Linked DNA regions of Homo sapiens. The protein of the gene in region 2 purifies or fractionates together with the protein of the main gene of each other region. This does not show direct contact. Each region holds a gene or a part of one and is shown on either strand. Other genes may lie near its edges.

Region 1 (3,500 bases), on a different chromosome or scaffold from region 2:
TTTCTTGTGCAGGGTTACACACCTAGCAAGTAGCAGAGCTGGCATTCAAATTGAGGCCTGATGTGCTAATGTAAAAGGAAAAAAACAAACTTTTTTTCCTTTTGTACTTTCACACTCAACATGGAACACTTCTGTGACAAGGTGTGTGAGTTTGTTTCCCCCACACACCAAGCAATTCTCCAGCAGACACCAACTGGGTATCCTATAATTCAATTCATTTCTGACATTACCTGGAAATAGTGTCAGATCCCACAGGTTGAGGGCTCCATCTCCCAAGACTGCCAACACTTTTGATGCCAGTCATGAGTCTGGGCCACCCATACTCCTGACTGACCAACTACAAACTAGAGTCCTTGATTTCCTTTGGTTCAGTTAATTTCCTAGGACAGCTCACACAACTCAGGGAAACACGTTCACTGGTTTATTATAAAAGATACAGCTGAACAGCCCAATGAAGGAGGTACACAGGGCAAGGTTGAGGGAGAGGGAGAGGGTGTGGAGCTTCCATGCCTTCTCTGGGCTCACACTCTCTCAGCACCTCACCAATCTGGAAGGAACCACTGTGTCCTGCTGCCTTCATTAGCATTTAGTGAGCACCAATTGTTTGTCAGGTGCTGAACTATGTACTGGCAATACAAAAATGGGAAAGATATGACCCCTGTTTTGGGGGGGTACATAGTGCACTGAACTAAATTGCTGTCTATAATAATCTATTGGGTGGAAAAGTAGGAAGTTCATTCCAGTTCTGCAAGGTGTCTGCTTTCAGAATGGAGCCCACTTTGGTGGTGGCAAGGCCTGGCTGAGTTCTTTCAAAGCAACATCCAACTTCTCTTTGCTCTTTGACTTCCTCCAGATTCTCTCCTGTGCTGGAGGTAATAAGGGTTGCACTTCCCTCTTTACTTACACTGGTGAAACATGCAGTGAGGATTCAAGGTCAAAATTGGGTCAAAGTTAAACTAACACAGTCTCCTGCCCCACTTACCTGTCCTCTAACCCCATCCACCAGCCCTAAGTGGTCATCACATGATCAGAAGTCAGCTGGGGGAAGAGCAGGGATAGATAGAGCAATTAAGGAGCCTCTTTTGGGGTAAGCCACATGACAGGGGCTTTGCAACAGTCTTTCATGAGTGGCCGAAATCCCCCACTCACTGCAAATGTGCTTCTCAAAGATGCAGGATTTTTTAATAAACAGAGGAAATGATAAATTATGTTGTAATTCCACTCCAAAGGCATTTGGTTCTTAACAGCCAAATCCTCTGTAGTCTTTAAATAAACAAAAACTTATTTGGTGAACAGACAGGGAGGAAAATGAAAGATTTTCTGTACTTGGGTTCCACATGTCAACAATTTCTCTCCTGTGTGTATGTTGGCCAAAGCTGTATCATGATAAATGAATAAAGGAAAACCTCGAGCCCAGGGCAGTCAGACAGCTCAGCAAATGGCTTTCAGATGATTACTCAATTTCAGTTGACATTTATCAAAGAGTTTCTCTGTGACTCTGTGTCAGGGCTGTAGTGGTGACAGGGACAAGAATGAGACTACCTGTTTGGATGTGCTGAGAATGAGTAATGCTGGAGCAATTCATTCTCCATCTCTTCTCTCCTACAGCCTCTCTCAAAAAGAAACACTGGGTATGGAAATTCTCACACTTGCCAGAAGAATTAACCACCTCTTCTATTCAGTTTAATGACTTTCAAAGTCCTATGAAATATTCAGGCCAGAGAGAATTTGAGAATTTTTTTCCTGTCTGGTGTGTGTGTGTGTGTGTGTGTGTGTGTGTGTGTGTGTGTGTGTGTGTGTGTGTTGGAAATTACAAAATAAGTTGGAATGCAGAAAGTTAAAAAAAAAATCTCACCAGGCCCTACTCCTTTAAAATTAGGTATATATCTTTCCAGACCTCCTTTCTCTGTGCATATATGTGTGTGTGTGTGTGTGTGTTCGTTTCATTTTGTTTTGCCTTTGAGACAGTGTCTCACTCTGTCGCCCATCATGCAGTGGCACAATCATAGCTCACTGCAGCCTTGAACTCTTTGGCTCATGCAATTCTCCCACCTCAGCCTCCTGAGTAGCTGGGACTGCAGCTATGCACCACCACACCTGGCTTTTTTTTTTTTGCTTTGTTTCCTAGGCTGGTCTCAAACACCTGGCCTCAAGCGGTCCTTCTGCCTCAGCCTCCCAAAGCGCTGGGATTACAAGTGTGAGCCACTCTGCCTGGCCATATATAATTTTTTTTTTTTTTTTTTTGCAATGGAGTCTTGCTCTGTCGCCCACGCTGGAGTGCATTGGCGCAATCTCGGCTCACTGCAACCTCTGCCTCCCTGGTTCAAGCAGTTTTCCCTGCTTCAGCCTCCTGAGTAGCTGGGATTACAGGCGCCCGCCACCACACCCAGCTAATTTTTTATTTTTTTTTAGTAGAGATGGGGTTTCACCATGTTGGCCAGGCTGGTCTTGAACTCCTGACTCAGGTGATCCACCTGTCTCAGCCTCCCAAATTGCTGGGATTACAGGCATGAACCACTGCGCCCGGCCATATAATTTTTTAGAAGGAGAGAGGGGAACTATTCATATTCTGATGTTTGCTTTTTTTTCTTACCCTGTAACAATCATGGTCATCTGTCCATGTGTGTACATAATAGATACAATTTATTATTTCATTGTGATACAGTATTCCATAATATGGGTCTACCATAACTTAATTCACTATTAGCCCATGACACTATTTAAAAATTATTTCACATGCATTGGAGAATGTTTAAAGATGATTTTTTTTTTTAAGAAAAAAGAAAGGCCCCTATTCTAAGATTATCTGATAAGGTCTGCTCTTTCTCCTTCAACCTCAGGCTAACATTTATTGAATGCCTACAGTCGGCCAGGTTCCATGCTAGACCCTTTACACGTGTTCCCACATTGAAACTTCTGATGAATCCTTGTTAATGTAGGTGTTATGATTATCTGTGTTTTTCTGTGAAAAAAACAGGTTCAGAAAGGATATTTAACTTGCCCAAGGTCACACAGGTAGTAAGTGCTAGAATGAAATTTCAAACCCACATCTGACCTTGAAGTAGGTCCTTAATCAGTGTGCTTTGGTTCCCAAGTCTTCGCTGAACACTTACTCAAAAGGGACCTCGCGCTGTTCTGGACCTGGACGGTGATGTGAGAGAAGCAGAAGTCTTGCTTTCATAAAACACATAGCAAGCTGTTCCTAATTAATGACTGCAAGTAAAATAGCATAGTACCTGGCACATTGTAAACACCAAAGAAATGGTAGCTCTTATGGAGACAGTAAAGATTACATATTAATCCCCCACCTGTTTGGCCAACTTCTCTAGAATATGTCAGAGAGCAAGCAAAATGTTCACCAAGCAGTGAATAATGATAATAATAACAACAATAACAGTATTGACAGATCAGTAACTAATATTTGCTTGGTGCTTTTTAGTTTTCAAACTGCTTCTACATTCTTTGTTGCATTGAAACCACTCAGTGAAACTTTGCGGTTA
Region 2 (3,500 bases):
CCTTGCTGGATAGGGGTATGGACCTCATGCCACCCAAGCCCACTCTGCAGGACACTGGCTTTTGTGCAGCTCTTCATCACAGAGTCTGTTGAGCTACAACCCAGAAAAAAAACATGAAGGGATCTCTGGTCTGTCTGATTCATCCTCTTAAGCATAGATTTGTTCAGTATTTGTCTTCCTTCCAGGATAAAATTCTTTTTTTTTTTTTTTTTTAAGAGACGGTGTCTCACTATGTTGCCCAGGCTGGTCTGGAACTCTTGGCTTCAAGCAATCCTCCCCCATCGGCCTCCCAAAGTGTTGGAATTATAGGCATAGCCACTGCTCCCCACCCTGGGTAAGATTCTTAACCTGTGCTCCACAGGCTGATTCTAGGTAAACATTTGAGGCTAATAAAAATGTACGCCATAGGCCGGCGCGGTGGCTCATGCCTGTAATCCCAGCACTTTGGGAGGCCGAGGCGGGCAGATTACGAGGTCAGCAGATCGAGACCATCCTGGCTAACACGGTGAAACCCCGCCTCTACTAAAAATCCAAAAAATTAGCCGGACGTGGTGGCGGGCGCCTGTAGTCCCAGCTACTCGGGATGCTGAGGCAGGAGAATGGCGTGAACCCGGGAGGCGGAGCTTGCAGTGAGCCGAGATCGCGCCACTGCACTCCAGCCTGGGCGACAGAGCGAGCGAGACTCCGTCACAACAACAACAACAACAAAAAAATGTACGCCATCATCGGATTCTCAAGGAGGTCTAGGGTCTGGGGATTCCCTAAAAAGTTACGAAGCATTGGCCGGGCGCGGTGGCTCACGCCTGTAATCCCAGCACTTTGGGAGGCCCGGGGCGGGCGGATCACGAGGTCAGGAGATCGAGACCATCCTGGCTAACATGGTGAAACCCCGCCTCTACTGAAAATACAAAAAATTAGCCGGGCATGGTGGCGGGCGCCTGTAGTCCCAGCTACTCAGGAGGCTGAGGCAGGAGAATGGCGTGAACCCGGGAGGCGGAGCTTGCAGTAAGCTGAGATTGTGCCACTGCACCCCAGCCTGGGCGACAGAGCAAGACTCCGTCTCAAAAAAAAAAAAAAATTTACGAAGCATCAACGAACCAGGAAAAGGTAAAAAGAGAATTGGAAGAGATAGACAGAATTTTTACTTTGTCTTTTTGTTTCCTTCTGGTTGCCAGCCTCAAGAGATGTTTGCTTGATTCAGGGCTGAAGGAGAGTAAAGAAAAGCTGTGAGGCTGTAGTAATCTAGTAGTGGTAAGCTCAGCATGAGAAGCAGTACTAGGAACCCTCGGCTCTTAAAAGGAAAAGATTTTATTTTAATTAGGGGGAAAAGGGAACGAGTTTATCTCTGAGGCCAGCACAAGAAAACAGGTGAGTGGGTCTAGAAGTGAAGAGGGCTCTCAGGGGACCCCCAGAGGAAGCTCCAGCACAAACTCCCTGATCCCTGTGACTTCACAAGCTGCACCTCCCATCTTCTTGAAACCCCTCCCCTGCCATAAAAGGGCAAAGCCTTGTTGAAAGATTGTAGAAGAACCCTGTCTTCCCACTCACCCAAAGAAAGCAAAGACGAGTTCCTGGAAATCTAACTCTGAAAACTCACCCCTCTCTCCAAGAAACATCTGATGTGGTGATTTGGTTCAATGGCAGTGTTAGTAGAGAACTATACGTGAATTATAAAGTGGGTTACTTTTACAGACTCTTACAGGTTCGCTGGGGACCATATCATTAAGGATAACTATTTATTTATGAAATGAATTTCAAGTTTTAAATAACCAAATGACAAGCGAACTGTTTGGAATAAAATTGTTGGAAATGCAACTCACTTATAAGTTAAGGTATACCCAATTTTTGAACAAATCACATAGAGCATGAGAAAAACATCATCTAGTAGCCAGTTCTCTGATAGGTAATTCTTTCTGTGTTTATTGTTTTTTAAATAGAAGTATACAAATGATCATATGGAATGAAACCTAAAAAGAGGCTGAGATTAGGCACCTTTTTAAAAGAATGTCATTTTAGAAACAATGAAATTAATCAGAGCTGTACTTTGTAGGAGGCAAAGAGAGTCGTGGGAGTATTTCAGCTAGTGACTTGAAAATACATTTTTCTGGCAAATTTTTCTTTTTATAAATGTCTGCATTTGTCAAAAACCTGTTGGATGATGAAACGAAATTGTTGTTGAGAAGACAAAGGTAAAGTTGACGATATTACAAATATCAATATAATTTACTTTTCCTAATGACTAAATATTTTATCTGAGACCTTATTATATAAACTGTGAAAGTATTTCATTGTAATTCTACTGGTAAGGGAGGGTTTAGGGGTTCTCCAATTCAAATATACTCCCAATTGCAACTCAAAATCATCATGTTTAAAAAGTATTTAACAGGGGAAATAGTATAGTATTATTTGAGGATAATATAAATGTAAGCTCATAATATAAAATTCTGTTTTCGCAATTTGATTCCCTGTCCTCCACCCCCCACCCCCAGTCCAAGAAACTCAAGTTCGGAGCATGGCATTCTATGATGTATCCATCCAATTCTGCCATTCTAAGTATTCAGTTTTTCAACTTGTAGAAGAAACACCTCTAGTATTGTGTGAAATGGGTCTGGGAAGATGATGCATTTTTCCTTCAGGACCAGTGAAAATATTTATGACATCTATGAAATGATCTCATTTTGTTGCACAAAACCTTTCCCTGAAATCACTGTTTATCTGGGACCCAGCAGCCCAACTGCATAGCGCATGTTGTTCAATGGGCAGCCTGAGGAATGGATTCCAGGGCCCATATTGAGGCCAAGTAGAGGACAACAGGACTCCTGAAGCACTTGGATCCAGTTGCAGAGGTGAATATCTTATTTTGAAAGAATTAAAGCTGGCTGATGACCAGATAAAGAGATATCCACTAAAGATCAGGAATAATTTTTTAACATCTTATTTTCTGAAGAAATGCCAGCCCACATTAGACACATTATAAATGTGTAGATTGCAGGCAAGCAATGATCTAATTAGCAGCATTACAAACCCCAAACTTATTTCCTCCCCTTTGCCGGAAGCAAAGCTAATCAGTTAGGAGAAATAAACATCATTCCAAATGGCTCAAAACAATCAAAGTTATATTTCTGTATAACCACTATGCCATCATTTAAGGAGTACATTTCCAACCTGCCACACCTCTAATAGGTTGGCTTAACAGCACATTTGTAAGCATAAAACTAGAAAAATAATAGGGTGAAATAAATTAATTGAATATGAAACTTTAAGGAGAAGTTAACATAAAGTACAAAAAAATTATTCGTTTAAAATTCTAAGTACTCTTAAAAGAATTTATACAGCAGAAAAAATGCAAAACAATGCTGGTAAGTAAAAAAATTCATTTATTCATTTAAAGCCTTATGTCTTTCTAAAATTCCCAGATTTATTGTAGCTTTTATTAGCACTTTTCACTTTCTTGCAAAAGACATGGCAAAGTGTTTAATCCTACATATATCTTAGTGCCT
Region 3 (3,500 bases), on a different chromosome or scaffold from region 2:
CTGGGATTACAGGCGTGAGCCACTGTGCCCGCCTTTATTTTTTATTTTTATTTTTGTTTGAGACAGAGTCTCACTCTCATCCAGGCTGGAGTGCAGTGGCGTGATCTCAGCTCACTGCAACCTCTGCCTCCCAGGTTAAAGCGATTCTCCTGTCTCAGCCTCCCGAGTAAATGGGATTACAGGCATGTGCAATCACGCCTGGCTAACTTGTATTTTTAGTAGAGACGGGGTTTCACCCTGTTGGCCAGGCTAGTCTCCAACTCCTGATCTGCCTCACCTCAAGTGATCTGCCTGCCTTGGCCTCCCAAAGTGCTGGGATTACAGGTGTGAGTCACTGCGCCTGGCCTGCTCTGGGATTTCTAATTCAAATCTTTATTTTTATTTTTAAAAGTTTGTGTATTATTTTGGCTTCTTAACCACTTCTTTTTATTTATTTTGGTTTATCTTAAATATTGTTGTTTTTCCATAGTTGTAAGTACCTGGCTTGGGTTTCCTTTCATTTTAAAGACCCTTTCCCCAAGTTGTCCTCTCTCCTGACTGGGAGACTCCATTTATGTCTGGCTAAGTGGAGAGGGTGTACTAACAGGCAGCTTGTATGGACTGAAGATGGGAGGTCTGGGGGCTCATACAATTGCCACAGTAAGACTTTATTTTCTGAGTGGAAACAACTTCTTTCCTTTTTCAGATTTGCTGTTTACTTTTATCCCTCCTCCCTCCCCTTTTTCTGCTTGGTATTGTGAAAGCTTGGGATTTTCATGCTCTACTTCTCTCCAGCCCCAACATCTTCATAATGTGCTCTTCGTGGGCAAACTTGCCTCTTTTTAGGGAGCAGTTCTCAGGAGGAGGTCATGACTGGCCCAACTGTTCTATAGGCAGTCCTTAAATTTCTACCCTAATGGTTATGTCAGATCCCACCGTTGCTTTTAATATTAGTTAACCCAAGTTTGACAGTTTCCTTTGACTGTATTGGGAGGAACAGAACTCACGCCTATGGTTTTAACTATTATTTTTCCATTTTTCTGTAAATTCAGACATCTGCTTTCTGTTTTAGAAATTCTTCAAGATGTATGCTCTGCCAGTGACATCCTTATTTCTCATTGCTGGTGTGGATTTATTTTATTTTTAATGTTTTATCATTTCAATGAAATTTTGGTAGGGGAGGGAAACAGGGCCTCTATGTCACCATTCATGTTGTACTTTCTTGGAGTGGTAATTTTGAAATGTTTGCCACCTTGGATTGAAAGAATTTGTGATTTTTTATTAAAGAACTTGAAGAACTAATTCAGTAAGTGAGTGCTTCCTTTGCAATATTACAGGTACCTAAATACAGTCGTTGTTCTCATGAAGTCTTTAGTGTGGTTGAAGATGCAATTACAGTGTACTGAGTGTTCAGTGCTTTGATCAGAAAAACTAAATTGGAGGGTATCAGGTTTTAAGCTGAATTCAGTTGAAACTAACCAGGCCTGGCGTGGTGGCTCACGCCTGTAATCCCAGCACTTTGGGAGGCCAGGCAGGTAAATCTCTTGAGACCAGGAGTTTTGAGACCAGCCTGGCCAACATGGCAAAACCCTGTCTCTACAAAAAATACAAAAATTAGCCAGGCGTGGTCGTGGGCACCTGTAGGCCCAGCTACTTGGGAGGCTGAGGCAGAGAATCACTTGAACCCAGGAGATGTAGGTTGCGGTGAGTCAAGATGACACCACTGCACACTCCAGCCTGGGCAACAGAGCAAAACTCTGTCTCAAAAAACAAGCAAACAAAAAACACAGGTAGCAAGAGAAATGAGAACAGCACGGAATACTCCAAGTAGAGGGAATAGTATACTCAGGAGTTTGGAAAGTGAGACAGAACACAGTATATTTTAAGATTTCAGACTGGGTATGGTGGCTCACACCTGTAATCCCAGCACTTTGATTGGCTGAGGCAGAAGGATCACTTGAAGCCAGGAGTTTGGAGACCAGCCTGGGCCACATAACAAGACCTCGTCTTTACCAAAAAAAAAAAAAAAAAAAAGATTTTGAAAAGATATAATTTTTTTGGGGGGGGGGTTCATTAAAAGCTGTTATTCAGTGATTACATATATATGTGTATGATCTCCAAATTATCATTTATTTCATAGCACTATCTCTTTTCATTATTTATTTTCTTAGCCCTTCAGTAATGAGAATGGTTCTATCTGTGAAGTGTGACATTTGGTCTTCAGTTTAGACAGATATAGAACGATTAATGTATCATTGAAAATAGCTCTTCAGTGGCATGCCAATTTCTGGGCCTTCTGCATTTTTCTTCTATCTTGTCACCTGTTTTACCTTCTTTTTATCCTTTAAATTTAATATCATTTCCTTGTAGACAAGTGTAGGTGTTCCTGCTGTGTCCTTTTATAGCATTATACCTACCTTATCAAAGCAGTTATCATTACCATACTCTGCTATAGCTAGTTTAATTATTGATCTGTTAGACTGTAAATTACATGTGGACAGAGATTTTATTTTGCTTACCATTGTATTTCTAGCCCAGTGTTCATTACATGTTTATAGCCATAAGTTAATGAAGAATTTATTGCTATTTTTGTTAAGATTTATAATGACAAATTTATCCAACTAGTAAATGGCTTTCAGTTTCTGAAGAATAAGCTTCTGAATAGAAATACAAATCAATTTTTGCCTCCAAAGAGTTTTCCTTGAGGACCACTGCCTGGAACTTGCAGTAATCTAAAATTGAAATAGAAACAATTAGCCGGGCTTGGTGGTGGGTACCTGTAGTCCCAGCTACTTGGGAGGCTGAGGCAGGAGAATCACTTGAACCCTGGGAGGCAGAGGTTGCAGTGAGCTGAGATTATACCACTGCACTCCAGCCTGGGTAACAGAGTGAGACTCTGTCTTAAAAAAAAAAAGAAAAAGAAAAAAAGGAAAAGAAATAAATGTTACCCTTTTGATCCTTTTAATTGCCTGCTTAAATGATAGCTCTCTGTTGGACTGTCTTGATCCAAGAATAGAGAGATCATAAGTCAGTAAGAGATGAACTTCAAGTATAATGACATGTTTTTCTCCTGTGAAAACAGATAAAGTTAATAAAGTTGGTGAGATCCATGTGAAGACATTAGAAGAAATTCTTCTTGAAAGAGCCAGTCAGAAACGTGGAGAATTGCAAACTAAACTCAAGACAGAAGGACCTTCAAAAACTGATGATTCTACTTCAGGAGCAAGAAGCTCCTCCACTATCCGTATCAAAACCTTCTCTGAGGTCCTGGCTGAAAAAAAACATCGGCAGCAGGAAGCAGAGAGACAAAAAAGCAAAAAGGATACAACTTGCATCAAGCTAAAGATTGATAGTGAAATTAAAAAAACAGTAGTTTTGCCACCCATTGTTGCCAGCAGAGGACAATCAGAGGAGCCTGCAGGTAAAACAAAGTCTATGCAGGAGGTGCACATCAAGACGCTGGAAGAAATTAAACTGGAGAAGGCACTGAGGGTGCAGCAGAGCTCTGAGAGCAGCACCAG
Region 4 (2,664 bases), on a different chromosome or scaffold from region 2:
AGTTGCTGCTTTACCCAAAGTAAGTACACTTTAAATGACTAATGTACACAGTTTTCAGTTTCTACATTGTTTTCCTTCTATAAGTAAACTAAGCACTGTGAAAGGAAACTTAAAAGAAGTAGCCTGGGCAGGGTGGCTTACCCCTGTAATCCCAGTGCTTTGAGAGGCCAACACAGGAGGATCGCTTGAGGCCAGGAGTTCTAGACCAGCCTGGGCAACATAGCAAGACAGCCATCCCTACAAAAACAATTTAAAATTAGCCATGCATGGTGGTGGTGCACACCTATAGTCCCAGCTACTTGGTAGGCTGAGGTGGGAGGAACACTTGAACCCAGGAGTTCAAGGCTGCAGTGAGCTATAATCGAACCACTGTGCTGCAGCCTGGGTAACAGTGTGACCTTGTCTCTTAAAAAAAAAAAAAAAAAGAAAAGAAATAGACCCTGCTTCCCCAGGGACTTAAAGTCTGAAAGGAAATATCCCATATTACATGCATGAAAAAAAAATTAAGAAACCTTTTAAGACAGCACATGAACATAGAATCAGAATCAAAATACTTAAATTGTGAGAAAAGGCCAGGCGCGGTGGCTCACGCCTGTAATCCCAGCGCTTTCGGAGGCCGAGGCGGGCGGATCACAAGGTCAGAAGATCGAGACCATCCTGGCTCACATGGTGAAACCCGTCTCTACTAAAAATACAAAAAAAAATTAGCCGGGTGTGGTGGCGGACGCCTGTAGTCCCAGCTACTCGGGAGGCTGAGGCAGGAGAATGGCATGAACCCAGGAGGCAGAGCTTGCAGTGAGCCGAAATCGCGCCACTGCACTCCAGCCTGGGCGACAGAGCGAGACTCCATCACAAAAAAAAAAAAATTGTGAGAAAAAATAAAATAGCAGCTGTACTGTTGTAGTGTTACTTAGGGGACTATAAATTTGAGCCAGGTTTGTTTGTGAGTTCTGCAGTAAAAATTTCACCTGGATATTGTACAATTAAAAATCTAAGCCTTCCACTAGAAAAATAATCTCTAAACCAGGGGCACACATATTTCTCACCATTTTGATTTTGCTACTTTTAACTCAAAGCTTAGCAGCACAATATTCCTGCCTATAAAAAAGCAGCTCTTACTGACTTCCACTTGCAGTTTCTACTAAAGAAAATTTATGTTTTAAGAGTGTCATTTGTATTGCTTTAATTAGTTGTTACTTGGAATGATCATTATCAAACCTATTAAGGTACTGGGTGTAGTAGAAAGAGCTCTGAACTTGGAATCACAAGACAAGGGTTCAACCTCTGCTATCTAGCTTGTGACTTGGGATGACTTAATTACTCCTTCTACACTTCAGCATATCATTCTGTGAATTGAGGGGAAAATACGTCTCTAATAGGGCTTCTGTGAGAATCACATAAGCTAATATAGTATATGAATATACCTAGCATGGTAACCTGGTCTGTTATAGGTTCTTGGTGAATATTTCCTTCTCCTTTCCTTCCTTGAAAAGTTTAATGTTAAAAATGTTATATTGCTGTTGGTTGCATGTTTTTAGTAGGTATTATAGAGTTTGCAATTTGTACAAAATGATTACAACAAATTCTTTCATTTTCCTCACAGGGCAGCCGAATTGAAATTGAAGCAGTAGCTATCCAAGGACCACTGACAACGGCATCACTATAAGTGGGCCCAGTGCTGTGTAGTCTGGAATTGTTAACATTTTAATTTTTACAATTGATGTAACATCTTAATTAACCTTTTAATTTTCACAATTGATGACAGTGTGAGTTTGATGAAAATATCTGAAGCTATTATGGAAATACCATGTAATAGGGAGAGTTGAACATGAATATTAGAGAAGGAATCCAGTTACTTTTTTAAATTACACCTGTGTGCACCTGTATTACTGAATATAGGAAAGAGATACCCATTACATAGTTACTCAGTAAACAAAAGAGAAATACCAGGTAGGAAAGAAGAGTTACTATTCCTGAGAAATAATCAAGAACATATTTAATTTAAACTAATGATGTGAACTATTTAGTTTTGATGTCCGTTATGTGATTCTGCTTTTACTTGAGTAAAATTAAAGTGTTTAAATTTGAGATCAAGGAGAAGATAGTGGAACAAAATGTTATATAGATAATATTTTTCTAATGGAAATAAAATAGGCAGATTTCCTTTGGTGTGATTTTGTTCACTTATTTCTTAACAGTTTATACATTAAAACGTATTGCCTAGTGGGGGCAGGTAAAGTTAAAATCTCCAACTATTTCATTTTTCAAAGCCTACTTCTGACTTCATACACTTTTTTTTGTTTTTGTTTTTGTTTTTTATTTTTGAGACAGAGTCTCGCTGTGTCTCCCAGGCTGGAGTGCAGTGGCGCGATCTCGGCTCACTGCACGCTCCGCCTCCCGGGTTCACACCATTCTCCTGCCTCAACCTCCTGAGTAGCTGGGACTACAGGCGCCCGCCACCACTCCCGGCTAATTTTTTTTTTATATTTTTAGTAGAGACAGCGTTTCACCGAGTTAGCCAGGACGGTCTCGATCTCCTGACCTCATGATCCGCCTGCCTTGGCCTCCCAAAGTGCTGGGATTACAGCTGTGAGCCACCGTGCCCAGCTGACTTCATACACTTTTATACAGTTTATTTTTTTCAACAGTTATGGCCAGCTATTA
Region 5 (3,500 bases), on a different chromosome or scaffold from region 2:
AATTCTGTGCTAATTAGTTCAAAGTCTGAATTAACGGACAGAATATAATCTAAGAGAATATATAGTGTTGAGTAGTATTTTTGGTAGGGTATGGCATTAGTTATTATGTTAAGTCATTTCTGTCTCCTACAAACTTTGTGATAATTTGCACATTTTAAAATCTTTTTGGCTGGGCACGGTGGCTCATGCCTGTAATCCCAGCACTTTGGGAGTCCAATACAGATGGATTGCGTGTACTCAGGAGTTCAAGACCAGCCTGAGCAACATGGTGAAACCCTGTCTCACCAAAAGTACAAAAATTAGCCAGATGTGATGGCATGCGCCTATAGTCTGAGCTACACAGGGGGTTGAGGTAGGAGAAATCACTTGACTTGACCCTGCCATGATCATGCCTCTGCTCTCCAGCCTGGGTTACAGAGTGAAACCCTGTCTCAAATAAAATTCTCAAATAAAATAAAATCTTTCTTCTCCTTTTTTTTTTTTTTTTTTTTTTTGAGAGAGAGGGTCTCATTTGTTGCCCATGCTGGAGTGCAGTGGTGCAATCATAATCATAGTTCACTACAGTCTGGAACTCCTGACTCCTGGGCTCAAGAGATCCTCCCACCTCAGCCTCCCAAGTAGTTAGGACTACAGGCACATGCCACCATACCCAGTAAATTTATTTTATTTTTTGTAGAGATGGAATCTTCTTATGTTTCCCAGGCTGGTAACTCTTGGCCTCAAGCAGTCCTCCCATCTCAGCCTCCCAAAGCACTAGGATTACAGGCATGAGCCACCATGCCTGGCCTAAAATCTATTCTTAATGATAAAATACTGGTCTCATACCACTCCTAATAGTCTTTAGTGTTTTTAGTCATAAACCATTTTTTATTGGATTTGGTAGCATCTTTTTTTTGTTTTGTTTTGTTTGAGTCAGAGTCTCACTCTGTCGCTCAGGCTAGAGTGCAGTGGAGCGATCTTCGGCTCACTGCCACCTCCACCTCCCGGGTTCAAGCAGTTCTCCTGCCTCAGCCTCCCAAGTAGCTGGGATTGCAGGCGCCCGCCACCATGCCCAGCTAAGTTTTGTATTTTTAGTGGAGACAGGGTTTCACCGTATTAGCCAGGCTGATCTCCTGCCCAGGCTGGTCTCTTGCCCAGGCTGGTCTTGAACTCCTGACCTTGTGATCGGCCCACCTCGGCCTCCCAAAGAGCTGGGATTACAGGCGTGAGCCACCACGCCAGGCCTAGCATATTTTTTCTTGTTGTTGTTTTTGTTTTTGGAGACGGAGTCTCGCTCAGTCGCCCAGGCTGGAGTGCAGTGGCGCGATCTCGGCTCACTGCAAACTCCGCCTCCTGAGTTCACGCCATTCTCCTGCCTCAGCCTCCTGAGTAGCTGGAACTGCAGGCGCCTGCCACTACGTCTGGCTGGTTTTTTTGTATTTTTAGTAGAAACGAGGTTTCACCTGTTAGCCAGGATGGTCTCGATCTCCTGACCTCGTGATCCGCCCGCCTCAGCCTTTCAAAGTGCTGGGATTACAGTCATGAGCCACCGCGCCCTGCCGCATATTTTTTCTTTAAAGGGGATCCAGTAAAAGATAATAGAAATCTTTCATGTTACTTTTTTTAAATTTAGAAGTTGACTGAAGTGGCAACAAGTAGCCTTTGCAATCTTAAAAAGAACAGTCTCCAGAAATTTTCTTACATTCCAGTGTAACTTCAAAGTACTGGGTGTTATGTTTTCAGTTCTTAAACTTGCCCTCCGCCTTTAAAGCTCTGGGTTTATGAGCTTGGTCTACTGAGTACGATTTAATTTCCTACTAGGGGTAAGACCCATAGACACTGTATGCAGCACTTTCCCTGCTTTTCTTGGCATTTTTTAGAAGGCCATTAAGAATAATGTTTTATTTAGGTCTTTTATTATGCAAGATCTAATCCAGTCCTCATAACAAAATATTTTGGTTTCATTTAGAAGCAGCTAAGTGGGCCAGGTGTGGTGGCTCACGCCTGTAATCCCAGCACTTTGGGAGGCTAAGGTGGGCAGATCACGCGGTCAGGAGATGGAGACCATCCTGGCTAACACGGTGAAACCCCCTCTCCACTAAAAATACAAAAAATTAGCGAGCCATGGTGGTGGGCATCTGTAGTCCCAGCTACTTGGGAGGCTGAGGCAGGAGAATGGCGTGAACCCAGGCGGCGGAGATCTCAGTGAGCCGAGATCACGCCACTGCACTACAGCCTGGGCGACAGAGCGAGATTCTGCCTCAAAAAAATAAATCAAAAAAAGTAGTTAAGTGAGCCAGCACAGTGGTATGACCCTGCAGTCCCAGCTACCCGGGAGGCCAAGGCGAGAGGATTGCTGGAGCCTAGGAGTTTAAATCCAGCCTGGGCAATGGAGTGAGACCCTGTCTCTGGGAGAAGAAAAAGAACTTCTACATCAACGGGCAGTGTGATAGGCATTGAGACATAGGTTAGGGTTTTGCTATGATGAATGAGCACCAAGAAAATAAAATTTTAAAAATTAAAAGGTAAGGTATATTTCCCCTATGAGGACTGTTTGCTGAGGTACTAGCTAAGCTGGAGAATAGTCAAGAGCTAGCCTTTTTTCACCCCTGCTTAGTTGACATTTTTAAAGCTCACTGAAATAATAAGAAAATGACCTACATTTATGTAAATATCCTCAGGCAGAATGACATCCAAAAGCATGCATGCAAAGGTACATTTAAAAGTTGTGTTCTTGTGTAAATACTTTTAAAGAACTAGTGGGCCAGGCAGTGGCTCAGGCCTGTAAGCGTAGCATTTTGGGAGGCCGAGGCAGCAGATCACTTGAGGTCAGGAGTTTGAGACCACCAGCCTGGCCAACATGGTGAAACCCCGCCTCTACTAAAAATACAAGAAAATTAGCCAGGCCTGGTGGCGAGTGCCTGTAATCCCAGCTACTTGGGAGGCTGAGGCAGGAGAATCACTTGACCCTAGGAGGTGGAGGTTGCAGTGAGCCAAGATCACATCACTGCCTGGGCGACAGTGAGATTCTGTCTCAAAAAAAAAAAAAAAAAAAAAAAAAAAAGAACTAGCAAAGTTTTATTTTGTTATGGGTAAAAGGTCATATTAAAAACATCATGATTTCGGCCGGGTGCCGTGGCTCATGCCTGTAATCCCAGCACTTTGGGAGGCCGAGGCGGGCGGATCACCTGAGGTCAGGAGTTCAAGACCAGCCTGGGCAACATGGTAAAACCCCATCTCTACAAAAATACAAAAATTAGCTGGGCATGATGGTGGGTGCCTGTAATCCCAGCTACTTGGGAGGCTGAGGCGGAAAAATCATTTGAACCTGGGAGGTGGAGTTTGCAGTGAGCCGAGATCGTGCCATTGCACTCCAGCCTAGGCAACAAAGGGAGATTCTGTCTCAAAAAAAGAAAAAGAAAGTCATGATTTCTTTTGTTTTGCCATACCCGTCCCCCCATTTTTTTGAAGTTTCCTTAATGTGCTTCAATTTAGGACTAACTTTTTTTGTTTCAGACAAA
Region 6 (3,500 bases), on a different chromosome or scaffold from region 2:
CAGGAGCCATCTTGTTGGAGGGCCATTTGGACCTGGAGGGTTAATATTCAGGCAGAGATAATACATGGAGTATTGCTTTTATCAGAACAAGATTGTTCCCAGCTTACCGTACTGAAGCCTGCTGTGCGCACTTCGCAGTAGTCTCTTGAAATCTCTGGGGGCCAGTTTGGGGTCCCAGTAGGTGAGAGTGCTGGGGTGAGTTAGGGGCCATGATGGACGAGGTGATGGCCTCATCCTCATCCTCGTCCTCTGGTGCCCTCACTCCATCTCTAGCCAGCTCACCCTCTCTGTCCTCTGTCTTGGTTCTAGAATCACAAATGCACACAACTCTTCCTGCATTTCCAACAAGTTTGCCAACGATGGTAGCTTCTTGCAGCAGTTTCTGAAGTTGCAGAAGGCACAGACCAGCACAGGTGAGTGTAGGCCTCCCCTTTCCTTGTGCTGTCCTTGCATCTCCCCCTGGGGTTGCTGGGCACATGGGAAGTGATGGGTCCCACCTCAGACTCCTGCTCACCGGTAATCATAGATCGCCCTCATTCCACCCATGCGTGCACCAAAGGCATAAATAAATAAATAATACATAAATAATTTTTTTTTTGAGACGGAGTCTCGCTCTGTGGCCCAGGCTGGAGTGCGGTGGCGCGATCTCGGCTCACTGCAAGCTCCGCCTCCCGGGTTCACCCCATTCTCCTGCCTCAGCCTCCTGAGTACCTGGGACTACAGACGCCCGCCACCACGCCCGGCTAATTTTTTAAATATTTTTAGTAGAGATGGGGTTTCATCATGTTATCCAGGATGGTCTCGATCTCCTGACCTTGTGATCCGCCCACCTCAGCCTCCCAAAGTGCTGGGATTACAGGCGTGAGCCACTGTGCCCGGCCTTTTGTATCTTTTTAGTAGGGACTGGGTTTCATTGTGTTACCAGGATGATCTTGATCTCCTGACCTCGTGATCTGCCCGCCTTGGCCATCCAAAGTGCTGGGGTAATAGGCGTGAGCCACTCCGCCCGGCCAGTAATTTTTGTTTTTTTGAGAGGGCCTCACTCTTGCTCAGGCTAGAATGCAGTAGTGCAATCATAGCACACTGCAGCCTCAACCTCCGGGGCTCAAGCAAACCTTCCACCTCAGCCTCCCTGTAGCTGGGGCTACAGGGGCATGCCACCACACCTGGCTAATTTTTTTATTTTTTGTAGAGTTGTGATTTCGCCATGTTGGTCACGCTGGTCTTGGACTCCTAAGCTCAAGCAATCCACCTGTCTCAGCCTTCCAAAGTGTTGACATTACAGGCAGGAGCCACTGTACCCAGCCCAAGTAATAAATATGTAAATTAATACCAAGGGGGCAGGCTGGGCGCAGTGGCTCACGCCTGTAATCCCAGCACTTTGGGAGGCCGAGACAGGCGGATCACCTGAGGTCAGGAGTTCGAGATCAGCCTGACCAACATGGTGAAACCCTGTCTCTACTAAAAATACAAAAATTAGCCGGGCGTGGTGGCAGGCGCCTGTAATCCCAGCTACTCGGGAGGCTGAGGCAGGGGAATCGGTTGAACCCAGGAGGTGGAGGTTGAGGTGAGCCAAGATCATGCCATTGCACTCCAGCCTGGGGGACAAGAGCGAGACTTCGTCTCAAAAAAAAAAAAAATTACCAAGGGGGCAAATGTAGACCCTGCACTCAATGTGCTTACCCTGTAGGAGCAGAGACAGATAAGTCAGATTTCAGTCTGGGGCAGGTGGAGCCATGATGAAGCCTTCCCCACACTTGTGAGACCACTTTGGGAGATGGGAGGCATCCCCAAGCTGGGTCAGCTTGAACCCACCAGCAGGGGTGAGCAGGTCTTCTGCATACAGGGTTTTCAGAGACACCGGGCTGGCCCGAGACACCTGAGCTGCATCAGAGAACAATAGGTTCTGGGGCCTGCTGCGGCTGAGGTGCCGGGTGGGCACGCAGCTGGGGGCACCCAACAATGACCACCAGGGCACTAGTGTTCATCGGGTACCACCCCGTGTGCCAGGGAATGTGGACTCAGTGCCTGCCATGTCCCTTGCTCCGTGCAAGCAGACCACGTCTGTGCTCTCACTGAATCCTCTGGAGGGACACCTCTCTCTACCTCTGTTTCCCTTTGGTAGACGTCTGATAACACACGTCGTATTCTCTTCACTCAGAATTCATAGATGTCGGCTGGGTGCGGTGGCTTATGCCTGTAATCTCAGCACTTTGGGAGGCCGAAGGGGACAGGATCGCTTGAGCTCGGGAATTCAAGACCAGCCTGGGCAACATGGCTAAGTCTCCTCTCTACAAAAAAAATACAAATAATTAGCCAGGCATGGTGATGCATAACTTTAACCCCAACTAATGGGGGGGCTGAGATGGGTGGATCACTTTTGGGCCTGGGAGGCGGAGGTAGCAGTGAGTGGAGATCACGTCACTGTACTCTAGCCTAGGAGACAGAGCAAGACTCCATCTCAAAAAAAGAAAACAAAAAAGAATTCATAGATGTAACATTTTGCCTTTGATACTTCTGATCTTTGTTAATCATGAAAAATACTCACTGGGCACAGTGGCTCACGCCTGTAATTCCAGCACTTTGGGAGGCCGAGGCGGGTGGACCTCCTCAAGTCAGGAGTTCGAGACCAGCCTGGCCAATGTGGTAAAACCCCGTCTCTACTAAAAATACAAAAATTAGCTGGGCATGGTGGCACACCCCTATAATCCCAGCTACTTGGGAGGCTGAGGTGGGAGGATTGCACGAACCTGGGAGGCAACCAGCTCTGCTCACGTGAGCTGAGCTCACGCCACTGCACTCCAGCCTGGGCAACAGAGCGAGACTAAGTCTCAAAAAGAAAAAAAAAAAAGAAAAATACCAGAGGTTGAAGTCCTCCCATCCCCCTTTCTTACAGGAAGTAACTGTCGAGAAATTGTGTGTCTGACAACCCCTGTTGTCCTCTCAGTCAAGCAGTGTGTGCCGTAGTTTCAGATGTTTGACCCTTTATGCAGATGACGACATAGTGTGCGTTTTGTTCCAAGCTTTTTTCTCTTACTCGACGTTATTTTTTTTAGGTCTAGATGGTCCAACTAAATCTCATTGAGTTCTGTAAGCAGCTGGTTACCTCCATTTCCACACTTTCCATTTAGGAAGCTAAGGCTTAAAAAGATGAAGCCCCTGCCAGGCATGGTGGCTCATGTCTGTAATCCCTTTGAGAGGCTGAGCTGGGAGGATCGCTTGAATCTAAGAGTGTGAGACCAGCCTGGACAGCCTAGCAAGAACCCATCTCTGCAAAAAATAAAAATAAAATTAGCCAGACATGGTGTCGTGCACCTGTAGTCCCAGCTACTCTGGAGGCTGAGCTGGGAGGATTGCTTGAGCCCAGGAGTTCAGGAGGTAGAGGCTGCAGTGAACCATGATTGCACCACTGCACTTCAGCCTGGGTGATAGAGCAAGACCCTGTCACTAAAAAAAAAAAGATGAGGTCCCCAAGTGCAGAGCCAGCATCTTTCATGATC
Region 7 (3,500 bases), on a different chromosome or scaffold from region 2:
GGGGTCTCTCCTGTGGTCAGGCAGTCTCTGGATGGGGTTTGGCCAGAGGCCTAGCAAGGTCTGAAGCCCCCTGCCCACCTCCCAGGGCCCAATGAGACGGCACCCTTCAAGCCTGAGGGGGAGCTGCATGAGCTCAGCACCAGGCTGCTCCTCCATTACTCACCTCAGGTATTTGGGGGCCCCAGGGGAGTGGTTGGCTCGACTGTGCTACTTCCCCGGCTCCCACACTCTGCCTGCCACCCCCTCCTCCCTCTGACCCTGGCTGCCTGCCCATTCCCCTATCCCTAGGCTTGTAAGAACAACATCTGCCTGGACCTGTCCCCCAGTCATGGGCTTGATGGGCGCCTGACGGGCCACAGAGTGGAGACCTGGGATGTGAAGGTCTGTGAGCACGTGTGGGTGGTGTGTGCAGGAGGCATGAATATGGGGCACATGTGTGTTCGGAGTCAGCTGGGGAGCAGCGCTGTGCCTGGGGAGGATTTGGACAGTCCAGCTCAAGAGAGCAAAACTTCCTTTCTGGGTGGTCTGCTGGGGTGGAGTAGGGCAGGAAACTGGCTGGAAGGTCCCCCTCACTGCCATCCTCCTTCCCCCAGGATGTGGTGAACTGCGTTGGGGGTATGGGTGCCCTGCTGCCCCTGCTGGAGCGAGTAGCTGCACAGCCCAAAGAGGCTGAAGCAGGTCCAGCTGAAACGCATGACCTCGTGGGTCCTGAACTGACCTCTGGTCACAACACCCAGGGCCTGGTTCTCCCATTGGGTAAATCTTCAGGTAAGTGTTCCTGGTGCCTATGTTGTGGAGAGGGAATCTTGGCATGGTAGGGGGGTGGAATGCCCAAGGTCTCCTGGCCACTGGCAGGCCCTTGACACACATCTGTCCCCTTCCTGATGGCTGGCAGAGGAACGGATGGAGAGGAACGCAGTGGCTGCTTTTCTGCTGATGCTGCGGAACTTCCTTCAGGGTCACATGGTGAACCAAGAGAGCCTGGTGCAGTGCCAGGGGCCTGCCATCATCGGGGCCCTCCTGCGAAAGGTGGGGCCCGGTGGGACAGGCATGGGGGTTAGGGGTATGGTCAGCCTGTCTGACCGAGGGGACTGAGTGGGGAACCCTGTCAGTCATGAAGAACCTCCTGGGAGAGTTGCCACTTGAGTGGGGCCTGAAAGGCCGAGCAGGGTTGGGTCTGGAGGATCTGGGGAAAGGCCCAGCACAGGTCGGGGCAGGGACCCGCACAGCAGGCAGGAGGCTTGCGTGTCAGAGGCGGCAGGAAGCCCCCAAAGGGTTCTGAGCAGGCTGGTGGCCATGTTTGTGGCCGTCATGGCTGTGCAGGGAAGAGTGGCAGCTGAAAAGCTCAGACAGCAGACAGGCAGAGCCTGAGCCCTCACTCCAGCTCCTGTCTTATCCCAGGTCCCAAGCTGGGCCATGGACATGAACGTGCTCATGTCCGCCCAGCTGCTGATGGAGCAGGTGGCAGCTGAGGGCAGCGGGCCCCTCCTGTACCTACTCTACCAGCATTTGCTCTTCAACTTTCACCTCTGGACCCTCAGTGACTTCGCCGTGCGCCTCGGTAGGTGTGAGGACCTGAGCAAGGGGCCGGCCATAGGGCAGCTGAGCACTGAGAAGTTAGAACTCTGCTCTGGGGGATCTGAGGGACTCACCTGTTAGGAATCCAGAATGCCATGGGGCGGCTGAGGGGACTATGACCCTGCCCTGGAAGTCTGACAGGCACATGGCCCTGGCCTGGAGGATCTGAAGGGCCCAGCTCAGCCTAGTGGCCTGAGCCCTCTGCTCATTCCCGCTCAGGTCACATCCAGTACATGTCCAGCATAGTTCGGGAGCACAGACAGAAGCTGCGGAAGAAGTACGGCGTCCAGTTTATCTTGGATGCTCTGCGCACCCACTACAGGTGAGGCCAGTGGGGCCAGATGGGCCATGGGGGGCTGACACAGTGGCCTCCGGCCTTGGGGACTGGGCGGTGCGCTTCCCTGACTCACCTGCCCACCCTCTCTCCCCGCCTTTCTTTGGGACCTGGCTGGGTGTGCCTACTGACCTGCCAGCCCGCAGCGGGAGCGCCCCCTGGCTGCTGACGACCTACGCACCGTGCAGACCTCCCTCCTGGGCCTGGCGAGGGAGTTCCTGGTGCGGAGTCTCTCAGCAGATGACGTGCAGGTCACGCAGACCATGCTGAGCTTTTTGGCGGCCACAGGCGATGACGGTCAGGTAGGCTGGAGGTTGGGGAGCGGGAGGCTTGGGTGAGGGGAGTGGGGGCCCGACACAGTGTGAGACCCTGCATCCCCAGGCGGTGGGTGCGCTGGACCTGCTGCTGGCCCTGCTGCACGGTTCCCTGGTGCAGGAGTCCTTGGCTGTCTTTCTGTTGGAGCCAGGGAACCTCGAAGTGCTACTGGCCCTGCTAGTGCGGCCAGGGTCACTGCCCCTGCTGCCCGATCGAGTCTGCAAGGTACACCCAGCCCACCCCCTCCCCTGGCATCCCATTCACTGGGGCCCCTGCCTGGGGTTCAGGGAGGTACAGCAGGCCTTGGGCCAGCGGATGAAGCTGCCTTCAAGGGCCTCTTGAGCCACACACCTGCACGGTGACTTCCCCTCCTACAGTAACTCCTTCCACATGATGACAGTCCTCCGATGACCCCCACACAGATCCTGCGCAGACTGCAGCAGAATGAGCGGCTACCTGAGCGGAGCCGCCAGCGCCTCCGGCTGCGGGAGTGTGGTCTCCAGGGTCTGGTTGCCTGCTTGCCTGAGGGGACTGTTTCCCCCCAGCTCTGCCAGGGCCTCTACAAGCTGTTCCTGGGGGCAGGTACAACCTGGTTAAGGCCAAGTGGAGGGGGTGACATGTCAGAAAAACAGGGCAGGCAGGCCGGAAGAAGGAAGATAGTGGCATAGGGGCCAGGGCTGGGCCCTGCCCTTTCTAGTCTGGTCAGTCCCTCAGGTCCCCCCAACCCATCCCCCCAGATTGCCTGAACCTCTCAGATCTGCTGGCTGTGGTACAGCTGTCCCTCCAGGCTGACCTCAGCGTTCGCCTAGACATCTGTCGCCAGGTGAGCATGAGAGGTAAAAGCTTTGGGGGAGGGGGAGGGTGGCTTCTACCCTCTGGCCTTCCACCTTGCCTGTCTCATGAGGGGTCTCTGGAGCCCTCCTCTGCAAAGGCCCTGGATGAGGGTCTGGAGCAGGCAGTTGGATGCGTCCTCACTTGCTGTGCTCTCGCCTGCAGCTTTTCCACCTCATCTACGGACAGCCAGATGTAGTGCGGCTTCTGGCCCGACAGGCTGGCTGGCAAGATGTGCTGACCCGGCTATATGTCCTGGAGGCTGCCACAGCCGGCAGCCCCCCTCCGTCTTCCCCAGAGTCACCTACCTCCCCCAAGCCAGCCCCACCCAAGCCACCCACTGAGTCACCTGCTGAGCCTTCAGATGTCTTCCTGCCCTCAGAGGCCCCCTGCCCTGACCCTGATGGCTTTTACCATGCTCTCTCCCCATTCTGCACGCCCT

The links.
Region 1: the proteins of RBMS1 (region 2) and MRRF fractionate together in Homo sapiens (co-fractionation; one large-scale study listed by BioGRID). This does not show direct contact.
Region 3: the proteins of RBMS1 (region 2) and ZC3H11A fractionate together in Homo sapiens (co-fractionation; one large-scale study listed by BioGRID). This does not show direct contact.
Region 4: the proteins of RBMS1 (region 2) and RIDA fractionate together in Homo sapiens (co-fractionation; one large-scale study listed by BioGRID). This does not show direct contact.
Region 5: the proteins of RBMS1 (region 2) and SNX3 fractionate together in Homo sapiens (co-fractionation; one large-scale study listed by BioGRID). This does not show direct contact.
Region 6: the proteins of RBMS1 (region 2) and SUGP1 fractionate together in Homo sapiens (co-fractionation; one large-scale study listed by BioGRID). This does not show direct contact.
Region 7: the proteins of RBMS1 (region 2) and NBEAL2 purify together in Homo sapiens (tandem affinity purification; one large-scale study listed by IntAct). This does not show direct contact.

The regions. Positions count from the first base shown.
Region 1 is NC_000009.12:122,323,882-122,327,381, forward strand, and holds part of MRRF (ribosome-recycling factor, mitochondrial isoform 1 precursor), read left to right. Parts: 3' UTR 1-3,500. UniProt on the Homo sapiens protein: Responsible for the disassembly of ribosomes from messenger RNA at the termination of mitochondrial protein biosynthesis. Acts in collaboration with GFM2. Promotes mitochondrial ribosome recycling by dissolution of intersubunit contacts.
Region 2 is NC_000002.12:160,483,808-160,487,307, forward strand, and holds part of RBMS1 (RNA-binding motif, single-stranded-interacting protein 1), read right to left. Parts: intron 1-3,500.
Region 3 is NC_000001.11:203,844,123-203,847,622, forward strand, and holds part of ZC3H11A (zinc finger CCCH domain-containing protein 11A), read left to right. Parts: intron 1-3,061; coding exon 3,062-3,500. UniProt on the Homo sapiens protein: Through its association with TREX complex components, may participate in the export and post-transcriptional coordination of selected mRNA transcripts, including those required to maintain the metabolic processes in embryonic cells.
Region 4 is NC_000008.11:98,101,844-98,104,507, reverse strand, and holds the end of RIDA (2-iminobutanoate/2-iminopropanoate deaminase), read left to right. Parts: coding exon 1-19; intron 20-1,603; coding exon 1,604-1,666; 3' UTR 1,667-2,164; downstream 2,165-2,664. UniProt on the Homo sapiens protein: Catalyzes the hydrolytic deamination of enamine/imine intermediates that form during the course of normal metabolism. May facilitate the release of ammonia from these potentially toxic reactive metabolites, reducing their impact on cellular components.
Region 5 is NC_000006.12:108,223,041-108,226,540, reverse strand, and holds part of SNX3 (sorting nexin-3), read left to right. Parts: intron 1-3,495; coding exon 3,496-3,500. UniProt on the Homo sapiens protein: Phosphoinositide-binding protein required for multivesicular body formation. Specifically binds phosphatidylinositol 3-phosphate (PtdIns(P3)).
Region 6 is NC_000019.10:19,307,010-19,310,509, reverse strand, and holds part of SUGP1 (SURP and G-patch domain-containing protein 1), read left to right. Parts: intron 1-309; coding exon 310-413; intron 414-3,500.
Region 7 is NC_000003.12:46,996,666-47,000,165, forward strand, and holds part of NBEAL2 (neurobeachin-like protein 2), read left to right. Parts: intron 1-85; coding exon 86-168; intron 169-288; coding exon 289-381; intron 382-593; coding exon 594-768; intron 769-895; coding exon 896-1,029; intron 1,030-1,401; coding exon 1,402-1,561; intron 1,562-1,797; coding exon 1,798-1,900; intron 1,901-2,051; coding exon 2,052-2,214; intron 2,215-2,293; coding exon 2,294-2,452; intron 2,453-2,604; exon of another isoform or gene 2,605-2,634; coding exon of another isoform or gene 2,635-2,649; coding exon 2,650-2,809; intron 2,810-2,964; coding exon 2,965-3,050; intron 3,051-3,223; coding exon 3,224-3,500. UniProt on the Homo sapiens protein: Probably involved in thrombopoiesis. Plays a role in the development or secretion of alpha-granules, that contain several growth factors important for platelet biogenesis.